Regions from separate parts of the Homo sapiens genome. Here all the other regions are reported to be linked to region 2. Evidence: microRNA targets listed by miRTarBase, many of them from high-throughput screens and not tested one by one. Region 2 holds a microRNA gene; each other region holds the end of a gene's coding sequence.

Region 1 (6,605 bases), not on the chromosome of region 2:
GCATCACCTAGAAACTTCCTAGAAATGCAAATTCTCAGACTCCAACTTCACCCCTGACTTACTGAATCAGAAACTCTAGTAGTAGGCCCAGCAAGCTGTGCTTTAACAAGCCCTCCAGCGGATTCTAACGCATGCTAAAGTTTAAAAACCACTGCACTAAAATATCACCAAGACAACCACTCATAGGACTGGGCAGAAAGAAAAAGAGATGGATGGACTTACTGAAACTGAGAAGCTTCAAAAAGGCCCCCATGGAACTGAAATTCAGACTTTTGAGAACAGGTCACTGCTTGCCTGGTACTGATTTCTCTGAGTTCAGAGGAGGGAGCCTATAGACCTGGGAACCAGGTATCTGAGGAAGAAGCACCCAGTAATTGGAGCTGGCATCTCAAGAAGGCACATTGAGATTGGTTCTACAAGTGTTGGAAAACCCCCAAATTGCAATCAGCTGCTACTACTAGCAGGCACTATTGCTGTCGGAGTGAAGAATTGTTGCTAGAGTGAGACTTAACAGGATTAAGAAACCCATCCGAAGGAAACAGCAAATTCCTTCTTCCTTCTCTACCTGTGAAGTGTCACGCTGGTCCCTCTATTGGCAGAGCCTAACAGGGAGACAGAAATGCTTGCAGAATTCCAAAGAGTGGGTTTGAAGCCAAGAGACAGTAGCTTACTGTCATGGCCTTAATTATAATACAAGTGGAAGATAATAGAAATAATACTTTAGGTATGTATAATTGGGTGCATGTAGACATTTTCTGGGATACTAACTACTGGGTAGACATTTGGCCTTATTGTAAAAAAAAAAAATTTGTATTAAAACTATTTGTTTCTCCTGATGAAATTAATAAGAGGCATTTAGGGCATCTATATAATGAACAGGAAACTATGCAAGGGCCTGCGCTGAAGTCTGCTTAGCTGAGCCTAAGACAAAGATCACAGCAGTAGTGGCTGAGGATTGCTCAATAATAACAGCAAACATGCTTTGGTCATCTGAGGCTCGGTTTCTTAACGTCTTAGTGTCAAAGGAACCGTCTAAAAAGAATCTTACCAGGACAGAGCAGTCAGGCCTTGCCTCATAAAACAGGAGGGTGGCAGAAAAGGGTGTTCTGAAATCATGGTCACTCACAAGAGAAATACAAACATGATTCTTCACTTAAGCAGTCATTTTTGTGCAATTCCAGGATCAAAAAGAACATTCCCATTGTGTTAACAGGTACTTGTAGAATAATTATCAGAAGTATGCCCAGCACTTTGGAAGATGAAGAACTAAGGTTCTTAAAGACGTTTACATATTTCTCATGTTATGTTCATGTTTTGTCTTTTTTTTTTTTTTTAAAGGATGTTGAAGACTCACAGAACCACACTGGTGAGCCGGTTGGAGATGACTACAAGAAAATGGGAACACTTTTTGGTGAACTGAACAAAAACCTTATCAACATGGGCTTCACAAGGATGTATTTTGGAGAACGAATAGTGGAACCAGTAATAGTCATTTTCTTTTGGGTTATGCTGTGGTTCCTTGGCCTGCAAGCCCTTGGACTAGTTGCTGTTCTTTGCCTTGTTATTATTTATGTGCAACAGTAAAACATGGCCGAATTGAATTGTTTGACATTTGGTAGCCATATATGTAATTGAAGAAGTTATATATTTCACTTTTTGACAACCGAAAAAGTTTGCCTTGTTTCAAATCATGTGCTGGCTGTTTTGTAAGTAAATTTATACATGGATGTCACTTAAAACTAAACTCTTGATCATAACAGGGTTGAATATATATTTTGAATATACATTAGCTTATTCAAAACTCTTGTTTCACTACTGTGATCTCTGTCTCCTTTATACACCTCTATCCCCATGCCAAATCTTAAGTAACACCACCAGAAAGTGAACAGGGAAAATAACAGGACATGGAATTCAAATCAAGCAATATAGTTCTTATAAAGAGTTCCAATAAAACATTTCAGAAGAAAAAGTATGAAACAAGCTAAAAGTAAGTTTCACTTAGAAAACTTCTCCCCACTCACACTCCCCACCAAATAATCTCATATTATTTGGGAAATATTTGGATTTCAATTGTCCCTACCCAGCCTAAACTAAGGTAAATGATAATTAGCATACACTACCTTAATATTGTGATGAAAATCAGTAAAGATAGAACGTTTTCTAAAGGTCAAAAATAATATATTTATTATTACTGGGGAAAGCTCCCAGGTTAAATATAACTTTTTTAAAATGTAACATTTGGACCTAGACCTACTTTAATATATCATTTGAAGTTTCAGACAATTTTGGTGCTAATTACTTTTTGTGAGTTTTTAAAGTCTCATAGCCTAGTTGACTGCACCCTATGGTAATGCCATATTTTCTTGTATCTAACAAGTTGCATATTTTTTCCTAGAGAGACATTTTCAGTGTATTTTTTTTTAGAAATTTATAATTTTATAGTTCTTTCATAACACTTATTCTGAGTTTTGAAACAATGTATTTCCTATCTTGACATGGATTTTTTCACAAAAAATTTGTATTTTACTGTTGTTTTCAGGAAAAAAATCAGATCATTTTTCTTTGATATCTATATCAGAAAGGTACAATATTAACAGTATAAAACCAAATGCTTAAATTTGGAACTTAGCCAATTTTGATAATCTTTTTCTAAGGCTAAAGTCACATCAGTAATTGGCTAGCCATGTTATTAAGGTGTCTTAATTCAGCATTTTCAGGTTTTATATTGAAATACGCATTTCTTTAAATATTCTTTGAAAATGGAGAATGGCTTTAGTGATATTTTGGGTTTTGTTAGAGAACCTAAAATCTTTACACTTTCATCTCAAAGATTATAAAGGAAAGGGGGGTAGTTAAGATTTAGAATTCAAGTTAAATTTCAGAAATTGGGGCAGTCAGGCATTTGTATCTTTGGTAGGGCAACAAGTAAAACATGTAGAGTGCTTGCTATCCCACTTCATAAAGCTTTTACCCAATCTTATTTCTAAACCTCTGTGCATTCTTAGTGTCTTCTCATTCTGAAACAGAAAATAAGGAAAAACATTTAACTTAGTTTTCTAAAATCAGATAATCCTAAACAAAAATGTTAGTCAGGGTCACTAAAAAGTATTGCACATTTATATAAATACAGTCCTTTTAAAATTTGACTTTTAAAAAACAAAAGACTTTGTACGATATTGTGTTTTTATTGCTTTTGCAATATTTTTATAGTAGCCTTTATGAACTCAGTATAAGTGCAAGTTGTTTGAAAAGGTGTTTTTATTAGTGCACAATAGAATTGTGAGGTTTTCAATAGATGTCATGAGATTTTGTATATCTACATAAAATATCAGTACATTTTTTTCTAATGCTACTGGAAATTTTACTTTTCCTTTGCAACACATAAATGATATGATGTACAAAATAACAGCTCTGGTTCCACCAGTACCTAATGTTGAAAACATTTTTAAAGTAATTTTTAATACTAACTATTTAGTATACTGTCAGTACTGTACATCTGCACACTGGTGTTAATAGGGTATATATTAAATTATATAAAGAAATAAGATATTTTGCTGTTATTCTTTCTACATATATTATTGGTCAGTACATCAAATAATATTTGGCTTTGATATGGGAAAAAACAAACTTTGCCTATGTAATGGAAATAAAATATTTTCTTTTATGAAATATATTAGAATGCAGATTATACTAATATCCTGAAATAAAACTGGTAATTTATTTGGTTCATGGTATAAAGAATTAGATTGGGCCGGGCGCGGTGGCTCACGCCTGTAATCCTAGCACTTTGGGAGGCTGAGGCGGGTGGATCACAAGGTCAGGAGATCGAGACCTTCCTGGCTAACATGGTGAAACCCCATCCCTACTAAAGGTACAAAAAATTAGCCGGGCCTGGTGGCAGGTGCCTGTCGTCCCAGCTACTCAGGAGGCTGAGGCAGGAGAATGGCGTGAACCCGGGAGGCAGAGCTTGCAGTGAGCACTCCAGCACTCTGGGTAACAGAGTGAGACCCCATCTCAAAAAAAAAAAAAAAAAAAAAAAAATTGGATTGAAAATGATTCTCATCATTTCAATCTCAAATACAAGCCAGTTTTAGAAACTGTTATTGCTTATGAATAAAGAAATAGAAGTTACAATGCTAAGGTTATTACATAATGCATACTCATATGGCCAGTAATTCAAAAGAAAAAGGTCGAAGTCTACAAATAAACAGACTGTAGATGAGTAAATCCATTTTTCTTAAAGTAAAAACTCTGTATTTTGTAGAATTCTGTCCTCTCATACCTTAAGCTGTCATGGGCAAGGTATTTTCCCATTCCTGGCTACAGGCAGATCATTCCTAGTCCAGTAGTGTGCTGGAGCAAGCTTGCACTGGCTTACAAGAGCCAACTGTGAACATTTTTTCTGCCTTCAGTGCTGTCAAGTTGGTAGTTTGAAATTGGCCATGGTGAGAGTATTTACACCAAAAAAATTAGTAAACACTGCAAATCAGATCTTTTTTTTTTTTTTTTCCTTGAAAGCCAGCTGTTAAACATACATCAGCACACCCTAGAGGCCACATTCCCATTTCTATTCCTACAGATACGAAAGTAAAGAACAGAACACATTTTGTGAAATAAAAGAAAGCATATGAGGTAAATCCCCATCGACCCACCCAAAACTGAATCTGGCTCTTTCCCTTGTGGGTATTATGGTTCATGGTTATCTTCTGACCAACAAATCTCTATTTAATCATGTTTTGACCACAGAAAATCTCTCTAGGCTGTCACCAAGCTGTAAATCCACTAAAGACTATCCAGGCAATCAGGAAAGGCAAAACTTACAGAATGATAGAGGAAAAATTACAGTATAAGTAAAGGTCTGTTGTAATATAGAAAGCTCAAAATAGTCAAAGCCAGGTTTGGAGCAATCAAAGGCTATTCGTGTGGTTCATAGATTGTTTTAATAGTTATTTTACAAATGTTTATTAATTTCAGGTGTTTAAAATGCTTTCATTACCAATTTATGGCTTTACAATTGAAGGGAGAAAAAAAAATGTAAGACGGCCAGGCGCGGTGGCTCATCCCTATAAAAGTGCTGGGACAGCACTTTGGGAGGCCGAAGCGGGCGGATCACCTGAGGTCGGGAGTTCGAGACTAGCCTGACCAACATGGAGAAACCCCGTCTCTACTAAAAAAAAAAAAAAAAAAATACAAAATTAGCTAGGCGTGGTGGTGCATGCCTGTAATCTCAGCTACTCAGGAGGCTGAGGCAGGAGAGTCGCTTGAACCCGGAAGCCAAAGTTTGCAGTGAGCCAAGATTATGCCCTTGCACTCAATCTGGGCAACAAGAGCGAAACTCCATCTCAAAAAAAAAAAAAAAAGACTTTCATGCCTGGTAATAGAGTTGGCCGAGAAGAATATAAACTTATTTACAAACTATGACTTCAGGAGTATTGGTGGATTAGAGGTCATTTGCAACTCTTGTCTCTCTGCCCAACATTTAATTTTTGGTATGCGTTGGAGTTCAGTCCAACAGCCTGCTCTCACATCACTCCACACAGCAGCTCGGCAATGTCACCACTCCCGTGGCTGCAGAGTTACCATTTGCATCCTAACAGCTCCCCAATTTGCATCTCTAGATCAGAGCACTGTACAGAATTTAAGACTCCTACATTCAATTGCTTGCCCAATATTTATTTGCATTTGGTTATCCCATAGTACCCAAGACTCAGCGTGTCCAAACGAGCGCAGCATCCTTCTCCCAAATCTTTAATTCCTGTTTCCCATCTCAGCAAATGACACAATCCTTTCCCTAACTGCTCAAGCAGGAGTTGTAGATGACATCCTTGACTCTGTGTTTCCTACACTACCTACATGTAACCAAGTACCAAATCTATTTTACTTCTAAAAATATAATCTTTCTACTTCTATTCATTCCTAGCATCACTGAGTCCATTCTGCCATCATCTCACCTGGCATGCTGAGAATCCTGATTAGCCTCCCTACCTTCATTTTCCACTTTGTAGTTACAGATCTTTCTAAAGAATTATTCTAACATGATTCTGATATCCTTGACCTAAATCTTTTCAATGGCTTTCTGTTTTCGTTATGATAAAGTCCTTATGCCTTAATATGTTTTACAAGGCTCTTCATGTACTGGTTCTTGCGTACCTCATCTCTCTATACTGCCACTCTCCATTTCCAGGATTCAACTATACTGAACTTTTCCCCAGTTCCTTTAAAGAGACATGCTTTCTTACTTCCAGAACTTTGTACATGCTTTACTTCTTTAACTGCTCCCTACCAGACTGACCAATATCTACACAGCCTTAAGACCTCAAGTGAGACATCATGTCCTCCAGGGAAACTTCTCTGACTCCTTTAAATCCAGTTTTGGTTCTTCATTATGGCTTGGTTTCTCAAGTGCAACCCTGTGCTTTCCAGGTCAGCACTTCTCATGCTATATTGCAATAGCTTATTTGTCAGCTGCTGCTTTAATAATTGATTAATTATTAAATTAATCAATAGGCTTCACAAGGGAAGAGAACATGTCTGTCATTCTATAATTGCATTGCTAGTGCCTAACACAATGCCTGGGACATAATAGGCCATCAAAATATTTATCA
Region 2 (6,605 bases):
TTCTTTTTTAATATAGGATTATTCATACAAATATTTCCATGTTCTGGTATTATCTAAAGATTTATAATTTTGAAAAAAAGAGTATTATTCAATAAACCATAATGGCCAATCCTATTCCAAATTTATTAAAAATGAGTTTAGATTCAAACCCACTCCCCTATATGCATTATTTGTCCCACTCAAAAGTTTATCCTGGAAGAGCAATATTATCCTTTATATTACCCTTTCCCAGAAGAGAAAAATTTTTAAATGTGCCTCATTTAATGACTTTAAAATACATACAAAACATTCTTTCAAGCATTTTTTTTGAAAATTGAGTAAAAAATGTTTAACAAAAAAGGTGTTAACTTTATGTTTTAAGGAAAAATATTGAAAATGTTATCCTGGAGTGCCTCACCTTAGGATGACTCTGCTGCCGTCCTAGCTTTCCCTTTGGAGTCTGAAGGACGGGTGTAGTCTCCTTAATGTTCTGGCTAGGTCATTGTCTCATTCTGGGAGCTGTCAAGCACTCTCCTGAGCCTTGCAGGGTCCAGTAGAATAATTCCATACGTGAACTCTCATAGGCAGCATTTGCAACAGGTGGTACAAGGCATTTAAGATTGGGTAGAACGATGTCGATATTCTGTGAGTAATTTTTATATTGTCTTCCTGTTTATATTCTACATTTTGTAAGTATTGTTTAGGACTTTATTTGCTAGTAATGGGACTTTTATTTAAGGCAAAAATCTGCATCGTGCAATGTATCTTGCAGAAGCAGAGATGAATTTTAGCAGATGACATATTGCCATAAGACAAGATTGTTTAAATGAGAGAAATTTAACTTTAATCATATTTGTGCTTTGTAGTTTTGCCCCATCATTCAGTTTTTTAATTAAAGAAACTATAATGTCAGGTTTGGTTAAAATATCATTGTCAGAAAATTTGAAACTCACTGGGATCTTAGCTTTAAGACTGAGACTTTCATTTTAAAAATAAAATAGCTGAATGAAAAATAGTTTGCTTTAGTTAAGAATACATACATAAAGTGTTTAATTGTTAAATGTGAAAAAAGTTTTGAGTAGCCTTGTGTTACATTTTTTAAGCTTGACCAGAATCTAAGAAAGATGAAAATTAATTTCAAATACTGAAGCTAAAACATGTTAATGAACTAAATAAAAGTTGACACATTTCTAATTTTATCCATCTTCCCACCTTTTACCCTTAAGTATTTAAAGTATTCATAGACAAAAGCCATCCCTTATCATTTCACTCCAGTTAACAGTGCATAAACTGAAGTTTGGATATTTTCTCAAAAGATGTGTCAAAATATACATTTCAAGTGCATTAACCACTTTCCTTATGCTTCTGAAGATAAATGAATTGCCTGAACATCTCAAGATCTTGAAAGTTTATAGTGATGGAAGCATAGGTTGCAAGTGAATGTGTTGGCCTTGTAAATTCTACTCCTAGAACTGTAGCATAAGCACCTTCTTAATTAAAGAATGACGCAGTCATAAATTTATGTATACCATGACGCGTGGAAGTATCAAAAATTTCAACTTTCCATATGTCAAAAGAGGAGAAACTATTATTTTAATATAGTTGAACACTAGTTGGAAATAGTAGTCTTTTCACTGTGTTTTGCCCAGACCCAGACTGGCAGAGTTAACCCAGACTGGCAGAGTTAACTCAAAGCACTTGATCCTTTGGAATACTCTTTTTCTCCCTTTTCTTTTCTCTGTCTTTCCACCCTATCCCCTTCCAAAAAAAAAAAAAAAAAAAAAAAATCATGACATAGAAAACCATACTTAGTTTATGGACAAGAATTCTTAGAATAATTTATTCTTTGTTAAGCATCAGACTGAAGTTATATTGTTTTGTTATATTGAGTTTTTATATCAATATAGGGTGCTGCAAAGCTGTGTACAATAAAGGTCAAGGGTAGTGATTTGCTGACAACAATTAGGAAAAGAGAACTATAGAATGCACAGGAACATTTTCAGAAATGGGTTTTATTATATTTCATAGGCACCACTCACTTTACTTTTGGTGGGTTTTAATACTTGAATCAAAATAAAATAATACATGAGTTAAGTATTAAACCAACAGATTAAAACCCCAGGCCCCCGAGCCCCTCATTTTGGTTGTAGCTCTTGGTGTAGATGCTATGGTGTGAGGGCTGCTTTCTTTCAATGGCTGGTTGTCATTCAGGCTGGGTTGTCATGTGACTGCCTGTCTGTGCCTGCTGTACAGGTGAGCGGATGTTCTGCACAGCAAGTGTAGACAGGCAGACACATGACAACTCTGTCCAGCCAGGCCCTTGGTTCCTTCAGGTTTCCTTTGCTCATAGACAGATACAATCAGCCTGTTTTCCAGATTTGGTGATTTTGGAGAGTAAGGGGAAAGGGAGAAAAATACACAATATAATTAAACATTAAAACATTATGGAACTAAAAACAAGTTAGACTTTTGACTTTATTCAGAAAGTACATTTATACATTTGTTCCAAATGTGCTAACATGGATAATTTGCGTAACAGAAAACTCACATTAAAATTTTAAGGAAAAAAAGAGATTAAACACAAGGTTTATTCTTAAGTCCAATTCATATTATTACTGGCCCACATGTAGTCAGAGTTCAGCGTAATTGAACCAGATGTTTTTCCTCTTTGCAAAAAACTGCATATTTTAATACTGAAGTTAAAGATAAAAACTATGTTTATGCATGTTTCTTTTAGTAGATAAGTACCATAACCTTGTCCATGAAAAAGAAAATTATCATTTACATGGAAACAGCAGCCCTTTTCAAAATAATTAATGAGCCTAATTTATTTGGCAACCCAAGTTGCTGACTTTGGTATTTGATGCTCTGATAATAGGATCCTACAAGGGAATATGTTTTTACCAATTATATGTGAAACAACAGGAACCTATTTAAATGTCTCATTTTCCTTTTAAATGCAAAGTTTATAACTGTGGATGTGAAATCAAATTAAAGGCAGTTGTGAGCTTAAGTTATCCACCTCTTAATTAACTATAGGGCCATGCTGTGAATCAAAAGGGTACAAACTGGAAGGCTGTTACTCACAGTGATGCTCAGAATGTGTTTTGGATATAGTTAGTGCAATATAGTTACAAAATAGTACTTAAGAAAAGGCAGAAAAGGCAAATTCATTTCATATCCAAAAAATTAAAACCAGATCCTTTGAAAATTTTTCTTATAATTTATATGAGCTAATAGTGTTAAATATGCAGATATAAAATTTAATTCTGGTGAGTTGAGAGTAATTCTATTTTAATATCAATTATCAATTCACATCTTTAGAAGTATTAAGCAAATTCCCCTCCCCTTTTAAAAACAAAAATATCCAAATAGTCAAAATTCCAGTAAGTAGGACTTCTTAAAAAACACAGCACCAAAAAAACACAGTATTGTCCAAGGATTGTATAATTAGACATTTTCTCAAAGAACTTTAAGAAAAACAAACAGTTTGTGATTTATCTTTAATTGTAAAATTCTGAGAAAATAGCAAATAGAAACTTAATGGAAAGCAAAATAGTTTTAGATACTGAGAAAATTACAATTTTCTACAAATCTGGACTTTTATGCAGTGATTAGGTAAGGTAATGTTTTAACAAAAGCTAATAAGTGCCATTTTCTGTGTATTTATGTAATTTCAAGAAAACAAATTTCCGATTCTGTTTCGGCCATCACTTTCGAGTAAAGGAACTTTTTTTTTTTCTTGACAGAATCAAAAACATGAGTAAACTTGGCTGTTATTTAAATAATTACAAGGTTAGAGTATGCCAAAAACCAGTGCCTTAAAATACTATTGTGTTATTGTTGCTGCATTCAGTGCAACAGAAAGTAATTATAGAGTGATTCACTTACAAAGAGTATATTGGTGGAAATTAAAAATTACTATAATTCTTTATAACTTTTCCTCTCTCTCCCATAAATAATTTGATCCAGTTAACTCTGCTCAATTAAAGGAATGATGCATGCAACCTGAAAAAATAAAAAGAAATATTTGTGAGTTTGTATGTTATGCTTTAATATAAAACAGTTTTATTAAGGCAAGATATAAAAATTTTTTGAGCCAGAAAAACCACAACAGTTTTTCAGGGGAAAAAAAAAATCTTGCTGAAAACAATTGTTCTATTCATAAGGCTTTTGGACAATTTATGTTTCTGATAGATTTTTAAAACACACTTACAGTAACTATGTGACATATGCACACTTCATTGTTATGTTGAACCTGCCCCTAAACTTGTTAAAAAGATGAAAGACTGAAAACCATATTGACCTTTTTTTAATCTCCCAAATTATAGGTTGAATATTAGTTTATTATTACTTAAAATACTAGCTAAAACATAAAAGAGCTATTTGTATTATTATCATACCATGTAATTTTTAGTGTGGTTATTACACCTTGTTTTCTTTTTGTCTTTTATTTCTTAAGGAAAAAAATGTAAGAAAAGAATTGTCTTCTAAGTCTTCTGTAGTGAAATTAAACCAAAGCAACTCCAGGAAACTGGCTGTCACGCTAAGTCAAAAAATTCAAAATGAAGATTTAATTATTTTTCCTAATTTACTTCGTTATCTCTAACTATTAAAACTGATAAAAATTATTTGTAAGAGACCTTTGAAAATGAGTAAATATTTATTTCTACTTAATTTACAGAACATGAAAGTAAGAAGGGATTTGAAGTAAGAAAGTTTCTATCTTAACTCAGGAATTTCCTGTCTCAGGTTAAAGCCTGACCTTCTAGTTATTTTAAGCCAGGATTTCTGAGTGATGGTCTCTTAGTTATTATTTTGACGTTATTGTGATGGGTGGGCTATTCTCCTTAGAGCAGAGTAAAGTGCATTGTTTATAAAGAGCAGATCCCTTACAGAGTAAGTGAAAGCTTTGGCGTCTCTTTACCGAGCATGGATGCTTGTGGATGAGTGAATTTTTTCACATTACCAAGTTGTACTTTTTATATCTTATAACAGCTTAAGACTTCAACCAAAAAAGTGGGGAGAATTCTTTCGTTAGGATTTTTATGCCTAAACTGTTTCCCACAGAGTGAAATACATGGGTGGTCTGTAGGCGAGAGGTGGGGGTAGATAGTATATTTTGGTCTTTTACAAACATAAACATATTATCTGGGCCGAAAGCCCGAATGCCAAGCAGGAAGGATATTAAGCCTATTGACTAACTACAGGAAAGTGATCAGTGTGAAACTTTGTCCTATAGTAAACAGTCTTTCTTTGATTTTGAGATCTGTGGCCTAAAAGAAAAATGAGTTTGAAAATTTAAGTCCACCGTTTTAGATTGATCCTTTTCCAGTTAAGAAATTGTGGTGTTGAAGCTAAGGCTCTGAACTTCCTTTCTCTTAGATGGTGGAAAAGTCCTTTTAACCCAGTACCTAGTCCAATTTATCAATCATTCACATGCTAAAATGAAAAATAATTATGAAATTTCTATGAAGTGTAGTTTGGACAGACCCTGAAACAATTTTCTCTTCATGACCACATATAATGTTTAATTTTAATACTTACACTTATTACATCCAGGGGTAGTTTTAGTTGAAGATGCTCACTGTTGGTTAGTTTCCTCTGGAATAGATTCCATGATCCCTAAAATATTTGTATATCTCCTTATAAAGTAATATGAAAATAAAATTAAACATTTTTCTAATTTACCTGGATATAGATATGGCTATAATGTATATAAATGTGGGCGTGTGTACCAGCGCATAAACTACAATCCTGCCTTCATTCAGCAGAGCTTTATAAAATGAGCTTTTACCTTTGATCTTTAATTTAGCCCATATAATTGAAAAATAAGTACTATTCGTTTTCATTTGTTAAAACTTTGCCTCGAAAATAAGTCGCTAGAGCCACATCAAGCATGTGCAGGAACTCCTTGGTTATCCTTTTACAAAGTAATTCTTATATTTCTACTCCTGTACTTATGCCAGAGGCACCCTTATGTCCCTTCTATCTCCAGACTAAAAGTCATCCTGAGGGAGAAAATAGGTGAGGGACCCATAGGGATTCATTTCTTTGAAACAAAAAGACCGTTTAACATGAAGAAAGAAATTGAAATTAAATATACATTAAATGAAAGCAAATTTTGAAATGTAATCATTTCTAGAGTAAAAAAAAAAAAAAAACCCAGAAAATTTGAGAAAAACATTACCAAAGTACCTTGTTAGCTATTTTTCCTCTTCAGTAATTGTATCAATTAGAAAAAATATATTTCTTGAAAAAATGAGCTCCTCTAAGTTACTTTTTTTAGTTTTCTTATGTAAAAGAAACTATATAGATTTTTAACATCTCATTTGTTCTACTAAAAATAATTAATATGGAACTCTCCAAGTCACAATAGAAAATGAAAGGATAACTTTACTATATCATCTAAGTGAAAGTAGCTAAATTTCTCCTTGCTGTTTATATTTTAACTAATAATCATGAATATATGAGAATACTTAATGTTTTCTTTATACACATTTTGGGGTGATCAGAAGGGTAATTTTTAAAGTAAGTTGTTTTGACAAAAGAAAACTTAGGGAATCTTTTATAATAAAATATTTTGCTAAAGAGAACTTGAGTCAATTTTTGAATTGTTGCAAAAT
Region 3 (6,605 bases), not on the chromosome of region 2:
GGCCGCGATGCGCTCCATGGCATCTGGAGGTACTCGGGTCTCCGGGCGTGCCAGGGACCAGAGTGTTGCCCTCCCAGGGTGGTCCCAGGGCGGCAAAGCGGCGCGGCTCGTGCAGCTTCTCGAGGTCCCAGTGGCCGCTTTACGGTCCCCAGTGCCTCAGGCTCTGCAGGCATCTCCCTGTAATTCTGGACCGCTGCTCCTGCCGCTCCCCGAACTCACTCCGCTGCGAAAGTATCCTAAACGGAGGTGCCGGGTGACCTTGGGAGGGACCGGGGCTGCCACCGGGATGGGGAGGGGTCCGGCCTCCCTTCAAACCTGCGCCCACCTCAAGCAGAGTGGGTTCTACATGCTTTTAGACAAATGTCGACAAATTTGCCTCGGTGGTTGGAGAAAGAAAAGCTCATAGGCCGGGCGCGGTGGCTCACAACTGTAATCCCAGCACTTTGGGAGGCCGAGGCGGACAGATCCCCTGAGGTCAGGAGCTCAAGACCAGCCTGGCCAACATGGTAAAACCCCGTTTCTACTAAAAATACAAAAATTAGCCGGGCGTGGTGGCGCGCGCCTGTAGTCCCAGCTACTCGGGAGGCTGAGGCAGGAGAATCGCTTAAACCCGGGAGGCGGAGGTTCCCGTGAGCCAACATCGCGCCATTGCACTCCAGCCTGGGCAACAAGAGCAAAACTCCGTCTCAAAAAAGAAAAAAAAAGCTCCCCCGAGTGCTGCCGCTTGTGTGGATGGGTACTTGGTGGTTCTTAGGGGACCATGGATATGAGTAGCCTTTAGGAGCTTGTGAGCCCGCTAAAACTTATACAGAAGTTTCGGGGCACCATTTTCCTTGATCATTTCTGTTTGTAGTTTTTCTATCAGTCATTTCAGTCAGCGTCATAATTCACGTTATCTTCCTTTAGGTGGTGTTCCCACTGATGAAGAGCAGGCGACTGGGTTGGAGAGGGAGATCATGCTGGCTGCAAAGAAGGGACTGGTAAGGAGAAACTCCCTTCTGTGTCTTCTGTGTAACTTATGGCCTTGGATGTGTTCATAGTGGTCTCCTCTCTGGGAGTATTTGATACAGGAAACTTGGCTTGTAGGAACAGTCCCCTGAGCTTCTGGAAGGTAGGGCTTATTTGGCCTAATGGTTCAATTCTTGTTTTTTTTGTTTTGTTTTGTTTTTTGTTTTTTCTTCAGGACCCATACAATGTACTGGCCCCAAAGGGAGCTTCAGGCACCAGGGAAGACCCTAATTTAGTCCCCTCCATCTCCAACAAGAGAATAGTAGGCTGCATCTGTAAGTACCTCACCTCTATTTTTTATCCACTTGCTTAATATATCCTACAATAGTGTGTAAGCTGCCTCAAATCTTCAGTGTGTGAGTGCATGTTGGTAAGTTTGTCTAAGGGTCTTGACACTCTCAAGCCTCATTATGCCTGATAGTTCATCCTTACTGGAAAGAAGCGCAGCACAGCGGTAAGACTGGCTCACTGGGAGTGCGGCATGAAGGAGTACCCACCCAGCAAATATTTATTGTTATACTGCTTCTATGCCAGGCATCATTTTAGACACTAGGGATACATACCAGAACGGACCCTGCTTTGCGTTCTACATAGGCAAGGGAATTGTTAGAATTTACAGTGACCTTGATACAAGGTCAGTTTACTCATAGGTGAACTCAGAGCCTCAATTTCTTCATCTGAAGAATGGGAGGAGGGCTTGAACTGATCTCTTAAGATATCAACCATAGTCTTACTTGTGTATCAGAGATGTCTGAGGAAAAGAAATTCATGTTGAAAGTCTCCCTTTCTAGGTTGGATGACCATAAACCACCTTTTTTCCCTTTTAGGTGAAGAGGACAATACCAGCGTCGTCTGGTTTTGGCTGCACAAAGGCGAGGCCCAGCGATGCCCCCGCTGTGGAGCCCATTACAAGCTGGTGCCCCAGCAGCTGGCACACTGAGCACCTGCACTAAATTACTCAAAATGTGCTGTAAAGTTTCTTCTTTCCAGTAAAGACTAGCCATTGCATTGGCTCCTTCTCCCATAGATGGCTGGTCTTATTTCTTACCCGTATTCTTTGGTAGGCATGGAATATGCTTATTTTGGGAAAAGCTGTCTGTTAATGCTAGCTTGCCATCCACTTACTGAAAGTGTATAACCAGTGTATAGTGCTTAGATTAATAATAAGAATAGATCGACAACCCGTAATGCAATGAATGGGACCACCTGGTATGAGAGAAAGGGGCGGGCTGAGGAGTCAGGCTGACAGGACTTAAAATATTGGCTCCATCATTTGGCTCTATCTCTGTGGACATGTTCTCTGGGGGTCAAGTACAACTACAAAAAGGTAAGTACCTTACAAGGTGCTTAATATGTAAAGAGCTGAGTGGATAGTAGGTCCTCACAGTATCCTCATAGAGACAGGGTGGCCTTGTGAAGAGAGTTTTGGGGATTTTGAAGTCTTGAGGGACCCAGGTGCAAAGTAAGAATTCATGGGGATACCAGCAGCAAAATTCAGAATATGGAACAATTTCAGAAATCACTGACCATGTTTCTTCAAATAAATTGCAAGGAGTGGGGGGAAAAGCTAGGGAGAACATGTGGAGAAACAGATAAGGGAGATACCAGTCAGCAGCATGCACACCTTGTTTAGATCTTGATTTGAAAACAATTATAAAGGAAAAAAAATTGAGAAGAATTTGAACTCTGGATATTTGATATGTAGACATTTACCACCCTTTCAGGTATTTATATAGTTTTGTTTTGTTTTTTTTAATGCTTGAGATACGCACAGGAATAAGGGAGGGGAGAAATGCCAAAAAAGCCCACTTTAGCTGCTTCATACCTGTGACACCTTGGGACAAGTTAAAATCTCAAAACCCTCTTACCTACAAAATGGAAATACCTTTTCATTTTGTGTGGAGATTAGCCAGAGGTGGCTTCAGTTACTATCTTCACAAAATTGGTCGAAAGTAGGTATTTCAGTGGGAGCTGATAGAGTCAGAGAAAAGCCCCTTCCCCTCATCTTGCCCATCCTGAAGGTGTAGTCAAAGCTATTGCTTCCATCCTTGTTGTTCATGACCTGTGTCCAGGAAATGTCTAAGCACTGACCTGCCATTTAAGGCCCTTTCCTCTGGGAAGGGGAGCTCTCAGATAACCCCCTGTGAAATCTAACCCCTACACGCCCATGAGATTAGTCTGTGCTGTCACTAAGCCCTCCTGTGTGGCTGGCCTGCCTTTCCCTTTCCACATCTCTTCCAACTCAAACTCGGCTGAGGGAGACTTTTGACTCCCCACATCATTAATCCAGTCTGTTTTCTCCCTCCCTCATCTCCAAGTCTTTGCTTTTCTTTTTTAAAATTTAACCAATTTACTTGTAAAGAAAAATTGGCTGGGCATGGTGGCTCATGCCTGTAACCACAACACTTTGGGAGGCTGAGGTGGAAAGGACCACTTGAACCCAGGAGTTTGAGGCTTCAGTGAGCCATGACCGTGCCACTGCACTCCAGCCTGGGTGACAAAGCAAGACCTTGTCTCAAACCAAAAAAACAAGCGGAAAGAAAAATCTCCAGTACATTTCCAGACAGTGGCAGGCAGAATAATGATCCCCCAAAGATGTCCGCGTCATAAATCCCTAGAATCTGTGAATATGTTAGGTCACATAGCAAGAAGGAATTAAGACTACAGATGGAATTCAGGTTGCTAATCAGCTGACCTTAAAACAGTTATTCCCAGATTATCCAGGTGGATCCAAAAAGCACAAAAGAGGCAAAAGAGAGTCAGAGATGTGACTCAGAATGGTCAGAGAGATGCAATGTTGGTGGCTTTGAAGATGGAGGAAGGGGTCCACGAGCCAAGGAAGGCAAGTAGCTATTCTAAAAGCTGGGAAGGGCAAGGAAATGATACTCTAGTCTTCAGAAAGGAGTGAAGCCCTGCTGATACTTTCACTTCAGCCTAGTGAGACCCACATTAGACTTAGGAACCGTAAGATAATAACTAACTATTTTTTTTTTTTGAGACAGAGTCTTGCTCTGTCGCCCAGCCTGGAGTGCAGTGGCACGATCTTGGCTCACTGCAAGCTCCGCCTTCTGGGTTCACGCCACTCTCCCGCCTCAGCCTCCTGAATAGCTGGGACTACAGGCGCCTGCCACCACGCCCAGCTAATTTTTTTTTTTTTTTTTTAGTAGAGACGGGGTTTCACTGTGTTATCCAGGATGGTCTTGATCTCCTGACCTGTGATCCGCCCGCCTCGGCCTCCCAAAGTGCTGGGATTACAGGTGTGAGCCACCGTGCCCGGCCATAAACTTGTGTTATTTTAAGCCACTAAGTTTGTGAGAATTTTCTGTGGCACTAATAGGAAAAGAATACACAGATCAATAAATCCAATCCCTGAGTCAGTAGGTCTCATATTTAGCTGCACCTTAGAACCACCTGGGGATCTTTTACAACTCCCAGTGCCCAGGCCACACCCAGACATTAAAATAGTATCTTGGGGTAGGACCCAAGCATCAGAAGTTTAAAGTTCCACAGGTGTTTCCAACAGCAAGGCTGAGAACTGCTTCAGGCTAACCATATGGAATAGCTCGCTTCCTTGCCTCATGGTAACTGGGAGCCCTAGTGGTAGGGGGAAAGATATAATGTTCCCCACTAGGAGGACAAAACTTTTGCTTTTGGGTAGAAGTGGGCTCCATCTGAACCTCTGGCCACTTAGCAGCTTAAATTGGATGCCATCTCCACTCACCAAGGAAGAATATAAGCCTCACTCTAACTGTATTAAACTCTTTCCAAGTATACAAGGAAGAACTTTTTCCCAGGGCCATTTGAAAGTAAGGTGATCTGATGCCCCATCACACGCATGTTTATTTCTTACAAAGACATTCTCTTAATACCCACAACATGACCATCAAAATCACAAAACTACGATTTGTATATTTCTACCATCTAATCTTCAGACTCATTTAAGTTTTGCTAGAAGTTCCAATAATGTCTTCTATAGCAAAAGGAGTCAACTCAGAATCACGTGTTGCCCTTAGTTGTTCCATCTGGAACAGTTCCTGTCTTTCCTTGACTATCCCGACCTTGACACTTTTAAGAATTATACCAACAACTTGGGTTTGTCTCTTTCACACTGGATTCAGGTTACGCATGGTGGGCAAGGAATGCTGCCCCCTTCCTGGGAGGCACGTGATGCCCACTTGTCCACTGCTGAGGAGGTTCACTTCTGTCACTTGATGAAGCTAATGTCTGCCAAACTTCACTGTGAAGTTGCTCTTTACTATCTTATGAGGCACTACTTAGAAATGTCAATACCTTGTTCCTCATCAAACTTTCAGCTTACTAATTATCAGTATGGATTCATACTTTATTTTATTCAGTGGATTATAATCCATGGCTATCATTATTTATTTTTTGATGTTTAATTTGTTCCAAATTTGGCCAGCGGGAACCTCTTCTAGCTGGCTCCTGTGGCCTTTTGACATGCCTCTATCATTTGAGATGGAGTCTCACTCTGTTGCCCAGGCTGGAGTGCAGTGGCATGATCTTGGCTCACTGCAAGCTCCACCTCCTGGGTTCATGCCATTCTCCTGCCTCAGCCTCCCAAATAGCTGGGACTACAGGCGCCCGCCACCACGCCCAGCTAATTTTTTGTACTTTTAGTAGAGACAGGTTTTCACCGTGTTAGCCAGGATGGTCTCGATCTCTTGACCTCGTGATCCGCCCGCCTCGGCCTCCCAAAGTGCTGGGATTATAGGTGTGAGCCACTGCGCCCGGCCTCTTTGAGCATTTCTTTTTATTTTCTGGAATAAAATGTTCCAGGCTTGTCTTCCAGGCTGTGAATAAACCCATGAGGAAGCTGCTATTATTACCATCCCCATAATAGAGATGGGGAAGCCTGGGGACAGCTCAGGAATACACAGCTAGCAATTTCTTGTGGCAAGATTGTGAACCCAGACCATAGCTCCAGACCCTGAGCTCTTTTCCCCCACCCCAACTTTTAAGTTATTATTTTTGAAACAGGGTCTTTGTCACCCAGGCTGGAGTGCAGTGGTTTGTTCATAGCTCACTGGAACCTCGAAATCCTGGGCTCAAGCAATCCTGCAGCCTCGGCCTCCCAAAGTGCTGGGATTACAGGCATGTGACACCACACGCAGCGCAATTTTCTATTTTAAAATAATTTTAGACTTACAGAAAAATTGCAAAAAATAATAGAGTTCCTACTTAACCTTCACTCAGTTTTCCTTAATGTTAACACCTGGCAGTACCATAGCATAATTATTGAAACCAGGAAATTAACACTGATGCAGTACTATGGACTAACCAGCAGACCTTATCATGATTTTGCTGGCTTTCCTGGTAAGGTCTTTTTTCCAACCTAGGATCTCACATTGCACTTGGTCTTTCCTTGTCCCCATGACCTGCCACTTTTGAACAAGGCAACTCTATTCATTTGTAGACTGCCCTCAGTTTGGGTTTGCCTACTGCTTGCTCCTGGTTAGACTGAGGTGATGCAAGAATACCAGAGGGAAAATCAGGCCCCTCTTAGTGCATCATCAAGAGACAATGACTTATGGCCAGGCCCAGTGGCTCATGCCTGTAATTCCAGCACTTTTGGAGGC
Region 4 (6,605 bases), not on the chromosome of region 2:
CTGCTGTAAAGTTGGCAACAGTATGTTGACCTCTCAGAAGCAGGGGACCACCCGATTCCCTAAGGAGGGGTGAACCAGCCCACGCTGGAAATGGGACAGGTCGAAATTCCTGTGCTGATCAGTGGTGGAATTGCACCTCTGACTAGCCACTGCAGTCTCCCCTGGGCAACATAAGGCTGGCCCTGTCTGTATTAATTTAAAACAAATTTTTTTGGCTGGGCGTGGTGGCTCACGCCTGTGATCCCAGCACTTTGGGAGGCAGAGGTGGGCGGATCACAAGGTCAGGAGACCAAGACCAGCCTGACTAACACAGTGAAACCCCATCTCTACTAAAAAAAAAAAAATTACAAAAAATCAGCCGAGCGTGGTGGCGGGCGCCTGTGGTGCCAGCTACTCGGGAGGCTGAGGCGGGAGAATGGCGTGAGCCCAGGAGGTGGAGCTTGCAGTGAGTCCAGATCGCACCACTGCACTCCAGCCTGGGCGACAGAGTGAGACTCGTCTCAAACAAAAAAAAAAATTTTTTTAGCTGAATTCCTTTTACCCATTTGTATGATGTCCAGTGTCTCTTCTTCCTGTGCCTGCCACAGGTGAGCAAGTGCATGGCTCTCGTTTCTCCTTTGAAGGGCCTCTTTTTCCTTAGGTTTCGTCTGTTGGGTTGCCTCGTGACCTCAGTTCTCTGATATCTTTGAGAAAAGTCATAATATTTGTAATTTATCTGGCTTTTTCTTGTTGTTACAGTGAGTGCAATATTCTTTCCAACTTTCTACTTTCTTGGGGGAAGCCAAAACCTCTTTGATCTTATGTTGATTGTCACATGAAAACAGAGCCCTCACTAGATGCCAGGCCCTGTGCTGAGTAAGGGAGAATCTGACTTGGTTTTGAGGAATTCTCTCTCCTGGCGTCGTACCTAGTGTTGGTGGAAGGGTAATTCTGGAGCACATTGCCTCGGCTTTGGCAGTGGGAGGCTTTGCTTGTAATTGGCATCTTAAATAAGTGTCCCAAGGGTGTAGAGAAAGGTCAGGGGGAGCAGCACACTGCCAGACCCACTGCCGTAGACTGAGGCTGGCCTTCTCATTCTTCTGACTCAGTGCCTATGTTGCCCGTTCACTGAAATCTGGTTCTTTAGGCTCATGACAGTTCTGTGTGCCTCCAATATCCTTCCAATAAATTCCTTTTTGCTTAAGTTTACTAGAGTTATTAGTTTCTGTCTCTTAAAACTGAGGACCTCTAACTGATAGACAAAGGAGAGAGCTTTTGTTTCAAGAGATATATACATTGCAAGGGAAAACACAATGTCTGGGGAACAATGGAATTGCCAAATGCAAAGCAAAATAGTACAGCCAAGATTGTGCGGGCCAGGGGTCAGCAAACTTGTTCATAAAGGACCAGATAGTAAGTATTTTACTTGTAGTCATATGGTCTCTGTTGCAAGTACCCAATTCTGCTGTCATAACACAAAAGGAGCATGGGTAATATGTAAACCATTGGGAGCAGCTGTTCCAATAAAACGACTTGCAAATATAGGCTCACACAGTTTGCCACCCCCTGGTATAGGCTAACATCGTGTATATTTAGAAGAAGGATGGAGACAGTCTATATATCCATCTGTGGTTCTTGGCCAGTGTTTCGAGTTTTAAGATTCTCATACCTGAGCATTGACTGACTATGGCATAATTTTTTCTGCCCACTCTTCTCTTGCAGAAGCTAAACCAGCCCCAGAAATATTTGAAAATGAAGTCATGGCCCTGCTGAGAGACTTTGCTAAAAACAAAAACAAAGAGCAGAGACTGCGTGCCCCAGATCTTGAGTACCTCTTTGAAAAGCCACGTTGAGCTGTGCTCCACGGCCTGGCATGGGGGTTCAGTCTGTGGATGGTAACTACTTATGATGGACGTTAGCCTTGCTTCCGGCTTCTTAGATGCCCAGCTGCCCTACCCCAGACCACTGGTCCTGCCTCAAGTGATGGACATAACCCTCTCCTAGGACATACATGTAAATGCACAATGTGACTCATTCTCATACTTTTTTGTTCAGCTCTGAGCCTCAAAAGTGATTTGTCAGCAGCGCTGGCATGCAGGCTTTGCCTGGCTGCTATCTCTAGAGGCAAGTCTGCCACGAGAGGGCACTGCAGGCGAAGCAGTTGTGCTTGCTCATTGCCTCAGCCCAAGTGTACTCAAAGAAAAGAGGCAGCCAGCTGTGCGTGCTGTATGGAAAGCCTCCCGCCCTCCCTGCAGCTCCCCGCCCTCAGTGGCCCAGGGCTTTGTTGAAGTGGAACTCCCCACTTCCAACCTGGTATGGCTCCTTCTGCGAAGGGAAGCTGATCCCAGCCTCCTGAGCTGAATCCTTCAAAGGCACAGCAGGCAGAATGAGGGCCACAGGCAGGAGTGGTGTGGGCACACTGCTTAGGAGTCAACATCTTCATCATTGGGCTTTCTTTAAAACGTGCACTTTGTAATTTGAAAGAGAATTATTAAAGCATACTGAAAAAAGGAAATTTACAATTTCCCAGCCCTCACAATTAATTTTAATTTTGTCTATTTTCATATAACCCATAGTCATGTTTATAGAGTTTTACAAGTTCACAATTACAGGTTTTATTTTCATGTAGCACTATAGAAAACTTTCCCCCTCATTCCTACAGTCTTCACAATTAGTTGACTAAATAATAATACATAAGAAATAATATATTAGAATGAATTAGTTAGAAGTGTTTTTAAAAGCTCTAGGGCTGTGTGACTTCTGTGTTGCTAGTGGTGCCCTCCCTGGAGGGGTTTTGCCCTCAGAGCTGTAATCTAGGCAGTAGAATCAGTCACCCAGACTGGACCAGGTGCATCTAAAGGTGTTGACTAGAAGAAGGTCGGCCAGATTTGATGAGCAGGTGGTTGGTGATTATAGGAGCCGCACACAGGGACTACACACGCACATGTTTCCAGCATTGTTGAGCTCCAGGGTTCCTACAGAGCCACCTCATGGTTCCTGCCTGCTCTTCAGTATCCCTGGTGGCTCAGGAGGGAAGGGAAGAGATCTAGCCTTTACGTAATCACAGTTAAGCCTCACAGCACTCTAGACTAGTGGTGTTACCTGTATTTTATACATAAGAAAGTGGGCTCAGAGAGAGGAAGTAATTTGTCCAAGGTCAGGTAGCTATTGAGTCGAAAAAGCAGAATTTAGTATAGCTCAGTCTGCCTCCAAAGCTCTTGAACTTTCTACTAGAACACACTGCCTTACTGCTGGAAATTTAATAGAAGTCTCTGTTTGGGAAAGCTGTGGCAAATAGATGTGACAGTTCTGAGACATGACCTCTGTGTTACATGGTGGGTAGGAATCTGCCAGGTGCTTCGCCAAGTGAGTAGATCTGAACTTGATCACCCAGTGAAGCTTCTGTGAGGAAGCAGCGCAGTGCACTGGTTACACATTTAAATCCTGGCTCTGCTGCTTACCTGCTGGATACATGAATTGACCTGAGCCTCAGTTGCCTCATCTATAAAATGGGGATGACAATGCTTCCTGTCTCAGCTAGTTGATGAGATGAAACACACAAAGCTCTTACATGGTAACTTGCACAGTATGTACTCTAGATATGAATGTCAGCATTTAGTCATAGCCTCAGTCTGAGACTTAAAACCTGTCCCTAACACAAATTGCCTGGCATATCAATGAGGTCACCATAGCTACATCCAGGGTTTCTCATCTGCAGGTCAGAAAGCTGAGCCTATTAATAGAACCACAGAATGTCTTACCTCCCAGTGAAGACGAGAGAGAAAACAGACCCTGGTGACAAGACCTTTGATGGAAAAATCTAGCACTCTCCCCTAAGCAAGGAATGGAAGTGAGACTCGCAGAAGCAGGGCAGGCGAGGAAGGAGACGTCTCCCTGGGAGCTTGCTGAAGACTCTGGCTATTCTCTCGGGCTGCATTTATGTACCCTGGGGAGAATGTTAAGCAGGCCGGGAGTTTATATATAGACATAGATCTGGACTGTACGAAGTGCACATGAATTGGGCGGTGACTTACCCATTTATCCTTTGCACGTTATGCAACAAACCCCAGTAGCCAAGGATGTAGTTGGAACTTTTCTCCCCCTCGGGTTTGATCCCTTCTTATCCTGATTTTGTCTTATTTAACACAATGTTCAATTGCTGCCGCTTTCACCTGGGAATGGCATGCTTCTAGAGGAATTGTTTTCCTCCCAGGCTGCTGGATTGTGTCATCTTTGAAAGTGAAGGATCTTGCTAAGTTCACCTGCTCAGTTGTCAGGCCCAGGGATGCTATGTAAACAGTTTTTCCCTTTATTAGGCATTAAGTAAAACTAGGCCGGCCACAGTGCATTTTTTTAGGAATTAATAAACATATAGCAAGGGCCAGCAGCCCCCGAAGGATCGCTAATGCACAGAAGCTAGACTCATTCCTTTTACTTTGACACATCCCTGCTTACTGACCTCATTCAGAGCCTGTGTGGGGCATATGAGCGTCTGGCCCTGTCCTGACCGACTCAAGTGGTCTTGTGAGTCCTGCACAGGCTCTCCACGTGACACCTTAAATTGGGTCAGGAAAGGCTGTTCTCTTTCCATCGTTTCCTTTTAATCATCCTAAGTCTTAAAAATCCATAAGCCAAACACCTTGTGCTGGAGCTTTCTGTGCCTTAGACAGAGTGTGTCTTTTGGGGGTCATTGTAGAAGCACTCTTACTGGCTTTGAGTGTTATCTGGAGGTCATCTGGTATGTCTTCTGCTCCAGCCAGGGTGGCACCAATACAGACCTGGTTCATATTTTTAAACATCACTGGGAAAAGATTCCGATGGGATAGTTGGGGTCTCTCATTTATCCTTCAGTCCATCTGCAGCTATTTGTGGCTAGACAAAGAGAGGAAGGTTTAATGATAAGCTAAACAGCTGTAGATGGCAAGCAGGTCTGTGAGATTTTTGAGCTGACAGCCCCACTTAATAGTATGTTCTGTAGTATCTGAGGACAGTGGACTCACCATCCCGCAGCTATCAAGTTGATGACACTGATCAGTACCCAGTGAAACTAACTCCTGACACCTCAGTTTCCCAGTGAACCCTCTGGGAATGAGGAGTGGTGTTCGAATTTTCCTGTCAGGGAAGATGGCATTGGTGGGATAGGTGGCTTCAGGCCAGCAGTACTTTTTGTGGCTTAAGAAACAAGTGTTGTTAGCAGTTTGTTAGAGGGGTGGTAGAAAGTTTAAGCTATCCAGGACAACATCAGTCTTTAAAGGAGATGGGTAGATTTATCATCACCTATAGCTGCAAAAGAAGAGTTAAAAGCCTTTTGTTGGATCCCGGATCTCAGACCCCAGATACTCCTTTTTTTTTTTTTTTTTTTGAGACAGGGTCTCACTGTCACCCAGGCTGGAGTGCAGTGGCAGGATCTCCCCTCACTGCAAGCTCTGCCTGGGTTCAAGCGATTCCATGCCTCAGCCACCCTAGTAGCTGGGATTACAGGTGCACGCTACCATGCCTGGCCAATTTTTGTGTTTTTAGTAGAGACGGAGTTTCACCATGTTGGACAGACTGGTCTCGAACTACAGGCCTCATGTGATCCGCCTGCCTCAGCCTCCCAAAGTGCCAAATATTCCTTTCAAAAAGGAGAATGTTTCTTTAAGAAGGGGATTGTATAATCTGTCATGAGATTAGAGTATAAAAGGAAAAAAGTGGGGGAGGGTGGATATATCATTTTCTGTAACAACACATCACAGCATGGAACTTTCAGCAAGTGAGAACGTTAAGATGTACATTCTGTTTCTCAGTGGATTCAGGTGATTTGGCTAATATTTAATAAAATATTCTCCTCTGGTGATGCCCTGGAACACGTGTTTAGGGGAAATAGAACAGAGTAGTTAAGGGGAGCTGTTTAGGAATCAGGCCTAACCTAGAATCCTGGAGCTCCCATTGATTAGCTGGGTGACCTGAAACACATTATTTAACCTCTCCAAGCTTCTGTTTCTCATCTGTGGAAAGGAAAGAAAAGGAACCCGACCTCACAGTGTGGGTATAAGGACTGAATAAAGTCCTGCCCCTGGAGAGCTTAGTACAGCCCCTGTACCCTCAGTAATACTTGGTAGTAACATCTAATAGTTCGGCTTGTTGTGTACCCAGTGCTGCTGAGTGCTTTACGTCATTTCATCCCACAATACCGTGAGATAGGTGCAATGATTATTCCCGTCTTAGAGATGAGGAAAGTGAGGCTCGGTGAGATAAAGTTGCTAGCTCAAAGTCACAGATAGGAAGCGGTTGGGCTAGGGTTTGAAGCCAGGCAGTGGGCCCCAGGGCCCTTGCACTTAGGTACCATGTGCTACCCTGCCTCAAAACATGAAAAGCATCATCATCTCTCTTCTAACGACCTCTCATCCTGAATCTTGTCTTGGTCCATGGCAGACTGCTGGTGTGGACAACTTTGCACAGATTGGGCCACCCTCTCTTGGTTCCCTATAGGACCTGGGGACCATGACTCATATGTCACAGCCTCAGCAGCTCTAGACTTAACCATCTGAGCCTTCCAAGGAGGACATGTGCAGCCTAGCTCTCCAGGTGAGAGCTTGGAGTTCAGAGACTTCCTGTGGATTTGGAGGGGAGCCAGAGGGAAGGGC
Region 5 (6,605 bases), not on the chromosome of region 2:
CCAGCTTCCCAAAGTGTTGGGGTTATAGGCGTGAGGCACTGCACCCAGCTAGATTTTTATTTTATGAGTTTAGGAAGCAGTGGATTAGGTGCATTAGTTTTAATTACGCATTAAAGTTTGAGTAAAAAATTACTTTTTCAAATTGCTTTTAATTAAAAGATAGTATTATTTTTCCCTATCTGATTATCAGTTTGTCTTGATTATCAGTTTGTCTTGTTAATAACTTGCATCCATCCAAAACATTAGTATTTGGTTTTAGTCATTTCTTTTGGCCTTTATCAAGGGAAATATTTATTTAAAGAAGGTCTCATTTACTCCACCTCATTTAGAATGACTTTTCCCCCCCGTGTGTTAATAAACGTATTTCTTTACATTGCTTTAAAACACTTGCATCTTTGCTCTTTTCTAACTCTGAGCTTTCTTCTGTGGCTGCATCTGAGGTGCTTTTTTCAGGTATAGTTTTTTTTTTTCTTTCATTGCATAATTTTTCAGCATTTATTTTTAGTTGCCCCTTTTCTTCCAAAAATGCTCATCTGAACAAAATTTTAATGTAATGAATTATAAAATAGTACTAGTAATAAATATGAATGTTGTTTGATTAATACTTGTGTAAATGTTTAAAGTGTCTTTATTTTATTTCATGCAGGTGATGAAACTTATCAGGACATATTTCGTGATTTTTCCCAAATGGCATCCAATAATCCAGAGAAACTAAATCGTTTCCAGCAAGATTCACAGAAATTCTGAATTTTTTTAAAAATGGGAAAATATGAAATCTGGTGACCCCCTAATGTATACAGCTAAAAAATCACAATTTTTTTACTGCTTTAATTCTACTTAATTTTGGTAGATATTGAATGGCTTGGAAAAGAGGTACCCATTCATATATTTATAAATTAAAACATAGTTATCTAGTAGTAGGAGAGGAACCTAGTTTAGGACCTCTTTTATTAAAAAAGCCTATTTAAAGGGCTATTTCTGTAGACAGAAGTTCAGTCTAGATTTAGGCCATCTCTAGGTTACAAGATGATAGGAGGTTAGACAAAAGTGATTCTTTTGCCAATGGGTGGTGGCATTGATTTTTTTCCTCCATGCATCTTGCCCAGGATCACTCAGTCAAGCATGTCTTCATCAAGTGGAAGCCAACTGTCCTGCCTGCCTCAAGAATATGTGTTTTCTTTAGCTTCCCTGAGGCTTTTTGGTGGTTCAGAAATAGGTGTGTGTGTTGATGTGTTTTTGGTAACCTAGCTTTCATACACATAATATATGATTTATTAGAACTAGAGAATGTGTTTTCCCCGTTTGTTCATAAATGCGGTCGGTTATACTTCTTAGGTGACAGGTTATTGTCCAGTACTTTAATGTATGTATGTATAATGGCTGTACAGGTAGACCATAATTCAGTCCTTTAGATTTATTTTATGCAGCAAAAAGAAGCTCTTTTTTTTTTTTAATCACAAAAAAAAACCCCAGTTCAAAATGTGTAGTTCTTCATTGTTGGGTTGATTCCCCAAAACCTTGACAGATGTATCGATGGAATAAAAGTATGTTTTAAAGGTTACTTGAATGTCACAAAATTATGCCTTCATCAAAACTTTAAAGGAAAAATCAATTTATAAAATCATGTAGGCCATTTTTATATTTGAAATTTGTCCTTTTAAAGATAGTTTTGCTGTTGCTCCTAGTGAAAGAAAAATCTCTGTACAAAGGAGAAAAAGAACCCCACTTATTCTTAGTTAATACTAAAATATATAGCAATAAATTGCTGTTTATTTTTTCTACATCTATTTTGTGTACTTGTACACAGTGTACATTCTTTTAAATTATATCGTGTATATAGCTTTAGTATTCGGTTACATGATTCACAGACCCCTGAATTCCAAAATATTATGGATAAACATTACCATTTATATGCTACAAATTAGTCTGATTCCATCTTTGAAAATGTCTTAAAGTATAAAATAATTAATTTGCTTTTTTTTTTTTTTTTTCCCGAGATGGCGTCTTGCTGTGTCACCCAGGCTGGAGTGCAGTGGCACGATCTCAGCTCACTGCAGCCTCCTCCTCTTGGGTTCAAGCAATTCTCCTGCCTCAGCCTCCCGAGTAGCTGGGACTACAGGCACCCGCCACCATTCCGAGCTAATTTCTATATTTTTAGTAAAGACGGGTTTCACCATTTTGGCCAGGTTGGTCTCGAACTCCTGACCTCAGGTGATCAGCCTGCTTTAGCCTCCCAGAGTGCTGGGATTACAGGCGTGAGCCACCGCACCCAGCCTAATTTGCCTTTTGATTCCTTCCCATTGTTGTCAACAATTAAGTCTATTCTTCTTTTAGAAATTATATGTAAATGATATTATTGATACTCTTTCTAAATAAGAGGTTTTAAAATATATAAAAACTTTATGATCCAATTATAGATAAATTTTCTAACATTTCCCAGTCACTAGGGTTTTATAAGTTGATTAAACATCAAATCAGAATCTAGCCAAGCAGGAATTATATTGAAATAAGTTCACATTACAGAAAAGGTTCCATAATTTGGCCAAACTGCATGCATGTAATGCTTATTTAGTAATGGTCACTGTATGTTAGATAAGGATAAAAATATATTTGTGAATTACTTCTGAGGAAATGCTAACTTCCACAGCATTGTATTTAATTATAACAATAACAGGAACATTAAATCTTTATCTTTGCTGTTTCACCTCAAAGTCATAGATCATCTGGCTTTTTAGGCACCTTCACTAAAGGCAAAAATCTGATTTGTAGTTTTTATTAGCATGTACCTTGAAATTATTTGACCAAGAAGCTCAAAGAAAAGAAGTACGTTAAAGAAAAAGAAAAAACCTCACTTTTCCTTTATAGTGTCCCTTCCTGTTTTAATTCCTAAAGATCCTGACTTTTATCTGAGGAAGTCTAGGTAGTTTTCCTTTTGGATCTGGCCATTGGTGCGTGTTTCATTCAGATCACCTCTGGAATCTCTGTGGTTGTGAAGGCAATTCCTTATGAGACTCTTGCCTCCTGTGGCTTACGTGATGAATTGTTAATATGGCAGTAATTAATTAGTATCTACTTAAATTTAGTGGTCAGAAATGTATTTGAAGTGCCTTAAAGATGATCATGGTTCAGAATATCTTCAGAGAAAGCAAAATCTTTAATATTGCAGGGAGCCTAGCAATACAAGTACACATTTCTGTGGCTTGATTTCTTGAATATGCTGAGACCCAATTTGGACTACATTTGGCAGAAATGATGGAGTAAACAGCAAGGCTTTAAATTAAATTAATAGTTACAAGGTAGGTTGGCTCTTAGGTGAATTTAGCCATGTCAACTAATAGCTTTTATATGGTATGTAACAAATCTGAATTATGTTATGCTGTGAATTATTCAGTGCATTATAAGAAATCTTAGTTAATCATGCTTTTGGGCTTCATTAGTCAATGTGATTGGCCTTTTATTTTCTTTCCATAACTTATCTGCTATTATTAGTTTCTTATTCCTTATTATTAATCTGTTAGCTCATTATCATTAGCTTACTAACTTGAAAGTTAGATTAATATCAAAATAAGAATAGCAGCACTATGAAGAGTTAATAAAATGCAATTTCATGTTAGAGCTAGAATAAAAGTAATTGAGCAGTCATTTGCAAATGCTTCATTATAACATTTATGTGCTTAAGATTTCTAAGGTTTTAAAAAGTTACCTTTAATACAATCCTTAGAAACTCAGAAATTTCCTGATATTCATTAGATTATGGTGTTTGCCTAATTTATACCGGTTTTCACTGTATATTTTAATGAACTTTGATTGGTTACTTTTCCAGACATACAGATTTAATTTGGAATATGAACTTTGGTTCTTCATGAGTGCATTTTGAAAAAGAAAAAAAGTACACATTCAGAATCTGGCCAATTTAAGTTTGTATTTTAAAAATATTTTATGCATGTTAAGTATGGTCGCAGTAAATGAAATTGTGTTTAAGACTAAATTTACTACCGTTTTGAACAGACATTCCCAGATCATTCTTATATTGTCAGATAACACTTGTGTATAATATCACTTTGGATCATGGACATGAGCTGGAAAAATGATGTATTTTTGTAGATTGTATGTCCAGAATGACTTTAGAACCGCATGATACGGTGGAAGGAGCACTGGACTAGTCGTCACTACCCTTTTTGGATTCAGGGCTCCTCACAATTAAAATGAGTGTAATGAAACAAGGTGAAAATATAGAAGCATCCCTTTGTATACTGTTTTGCTACTTACAGTGTACTTGGCATTGCTTTATCTCACTGGATTCTCATGGTAGGATTTCTGAGATCTTAATCTAAGCTCCAAAGTTGTCTACTTTTTTGATCCTAGGGTGCTCCTTTTGTTTTACAGAGCAGGGTCACTTGATTTGCTAGCTGGTGGCAGAATTGGCACCATTACCCAGGTCTGACTGACCACCAGTCAGAGGCACTTTATTTGTATCATGAAATGATTTGAAATCATTGTAAAGCAGCGAAGTCTGATAATGAATGCCAGCTTTCCTTGTGCTTTGATAACAAAGACTCCAAATATTCTGGAGAACCTGGATAAAAGTTTGAAGGGCTAGATTGGGATTTGAAGACAAAATTGTAGGAAATCTTACATTTTTGCAATAACAAACATTAATGAAAGCAAAACATTATAAAAGTAATTTTAATTCACCACATACTTATCAATTTCTTGATGCTTCCAAATGACATCTACAGATATGGTTTTGTGGACATCTTTTTCTGTTTACATAAATTTATCCACTTAAAATGTGATAATGTGGAGACAAAGCAAGATTTGATTACATAAACTTTTCTCTGCATTGGTCTTTTCACTATCTTATTTGCTAACTTTTCTTATTTTTCTTCAACCTCCCCACCCTCCATTTTTTGGATATTAAACAGGGAAAGCTTGCTACATTATAAAGATTGTTGGCACCATTTATTTTACACAAAGGCTAAAGGTTAACTTTTGGAAATGATGAGCTACTTTTATATATGTGTTTACTCATGCTTTGTGATATTTCTGGATCATTCCAGTCATAAAGACTTATTACATGTACTATTTCTTGCTACCTGTGAAAAGGTATATTTTAAAGAATGTATAACCAACAGTCCATTTACTTTTTATTAGTATGTAGAGGATTTGTATCTAATTCATGAATGTAGTTTTACAGTAGTTTGTCATTGTAAATGGAGCAAAGTACATTATCTTCTAAAATGTACATTATGTAAGAATTGTAAATATACTTAAGTAATTTGTATGCCAAAAAATTACAATAAGTCAATAAAGATCTCACCTCTGGCTTAGTTCTTTCATGGTGATTTACATTTTCTTGTGAAATACACTGTGAACATATCTGTCAACAGCAGTTATTTTTAAGGTACTATTATTTTTAAGGTATTTCTTCCCAGCCCTTTCAAATCCACATTCATCCTATTTGCTGATTACTTCAATCAAGAAATCCATTTGGATCTTTTAAGTATATAATTCTCTTTGTTCACAGAGCTGTTATAGCCCCTAATTCATTGGCAAAAAGATAAAAGGTTTTTTTTGGGGGGTGGGGGGAGGGGCTTGCTCTAAGTTTTTTCCATTATGATTGACATTAATGTTCCTAATCTATGCAGCACATTCCCATTTTATCCTTTTAGTAAACAGACACACACACGTTTGTCAGTGAATTGGGACTGAAGGAATGGAAGGTTGAAAAAACCAAACTGGAAGTGTATCACCTGCATTTGCTTTAAAAAAAAAAAAGCTAATTGAAAGCAGACACATAAACTTTTCAATATAACTTGCTTTATTCAGCTTCATTTCATTTTCAGAATAGTTCTGTGGAGAACCCACATCAATAGTCTATAAATATTTTAAGTGAAAACAGTTTAATTTTTCAATTATTGCAAACACAAAGCTTTTTGCTTGTGGAGAAATGTTAAGAAGAAGCAAGAGAATCATCCACAATTCCATTATCTTGTGCTGTCCAAAATGGAACTCACTAGCTACATGTGGCTACTTAATTGGAATTAGACAAAGAGTTCATTTCCTCAGTCGTACTGCTACATTTTAAGAACTTTATAGCCCCATGTGGCTAGTGACTATTGTTTTGAACAGGGGAGATTGTAGAATATATACATTGTCACAGGAAGTTCTACTGGATAGCACTGAGGGAGATACTGTTACTTTTTTGTGTATACCCTTCTAGACCTTTGGGTGTGTGTATTCATACATTTATATAATGGGATCATACAGTTACCCACTTCTTTCACTTAATAGATGGGGAGAACTTTATGGGAAATTTCAAGCATGTACAGGTAGAGAAAATCAATAGCTATAAGCTCATGGCTTATATTTGTTCTCCTACCCATTTTTCCCCTTTCCTGGACTTTTTGGAACCAGATCCTAGACCTTTCACCAGCAAATCATTCCGTATGTACATCTAAAAGTTGAGGACTTTAAAAAATCGTAACACTTCTTAAACTGTAAAACTACATAATCAATATTCAAATTGGTTTCTCAAATACGATTTTTAAAATAGATCGTGCAAATCAGAATTCACATAAGTTCCATACGTTGCAGTTGGTGAA

Evidence for each region. The annotated mature microRNA hsa-miR-3120-3p reads CACAGCAAGUGUAGACAGGCA and lies in region 2 at 2,249-2,269, shown strand. An mRNA with a match to its seed (bases 2 to 7 or 8) in the 3' UTR can be bound and repressed. Matches are read on the target gene's strand: a 7mer-m8 pairs with bases 2 to 8, a 7mer-A1 pairs with bases 2 to 7 and ends in A, and an 8mer does both.
Region 1: the mRNA of FAM241A is a reported target of hsa-miR-3120-3p. Seed matches in the 3' UTR shown: 7mer-m8 at 3,552-3,558.
Region 3: the mRNA of COX5B is a reported target of hsa-miR-3120-3p. Seed matches in the 3' UTR shown: 7mer-A1 at 1,975-1,981.
Region 4: the mRNA of SDHAF2 is a reported target of hsa-miR-3120-3p. Seed matches in the 3' UTR shown: 7mer-A1 at 2,202-2,208.
Region 5: the mRNA of ACAP2 is a reported target of hsa-miR-3120-3p. Seed matches in the 3' UTR shown: 7mer-m8 at 1,670-1,676, 7mer-m8 at 1,763-1,769, 7mer-m8 at 2,006-2,012 and 7mer-m8 at 2,694-2,700.

Annotation. Positions count from the first base shown.
Region 1 is chr4:112,185,355-112,191,959 of GRCh38, forward strand. FAM241A (family with sequence similarity 241 member A) reads left to right here. Exons shown (of 2, transcript NM_152400.3): 2 at 1,339-6,605. The coding sequence ends at 1,584. Among named protein-coding and RNA genes, the nearest start is that of AP1AR, 43 kb to the right of the region's middle.
Region 2 is chr1:172,136,610-172,143,214 of GRCh38, forward strand. It overlaps MIR3120 (microRNA 3120), which reads left to right and starts at 2,199; the gene lies at 2,199-2,279. All of the region lies in intron 14 of DNM3 (dynamin 3), which reads left to right. It overlaps DNM3OS (DNM3 opposite strand/antisense RNA), which reads right to left. Exons shown (of 4, transcript NR_103486.1): 3 at 5,527-5,604; 4 at 270-3,987. It overlaps MIR214 (microRNA 214), which reads right to left and starts at 2,298; the gene lies at 2,189-2,298.
Region 3 is chr2:97,646,161-97,652,765 of GRCh38, forward strand. It overlaps COX5B (cytochrome c oxidase subunit 5B), which reads left to right. Exons shown (of 4, transcript NM_001862.3): 1 at 1-29; 2 at 907-980; 3 at 1,184-1,283; 4 at 1,836-2,223. The coding sequence ends at 1,948. Among named protein-coding and RNA genes, the nearest start is that of COX5B, 3.4 kb to the left of the region's middle. RefSeq lists an enhancer at 1-6.
Region 4 is chr11:61,444,240-61,450,844 of GRCh38, forward strand. It overlaps SDHAF2 (succinate dehydrogenase complex assembly factor 2), which reads left to right. Exons shown (of 4, transcript NM_017841.4): 4 at 1,702-2,494. The coding sequence ends at 1,832. It also overlaps the pseudogene RN7SL23P. Among named protein-coding and RNA genes, the nearest start is that of SDHAF2, 17 kb to the left of the region's middle. RefSeq lists an enhancer at 2,103-2,850.
Region 5 is chr3:195,273,470-195,280,074 of GRCh38, reverse strand. ACAP2 (ArfGAP with coiled-coil, ankyrin repeat and PH domains 2) reads left to right here. Exons shown (of 23, transcript NM_012287.6): 23 at 647-5,330. The coding sequence ends at 747. Among named protein-coding and RNA genes, the nearest start is that of XXYLT1, 5.6 kb to the right of the region's middle.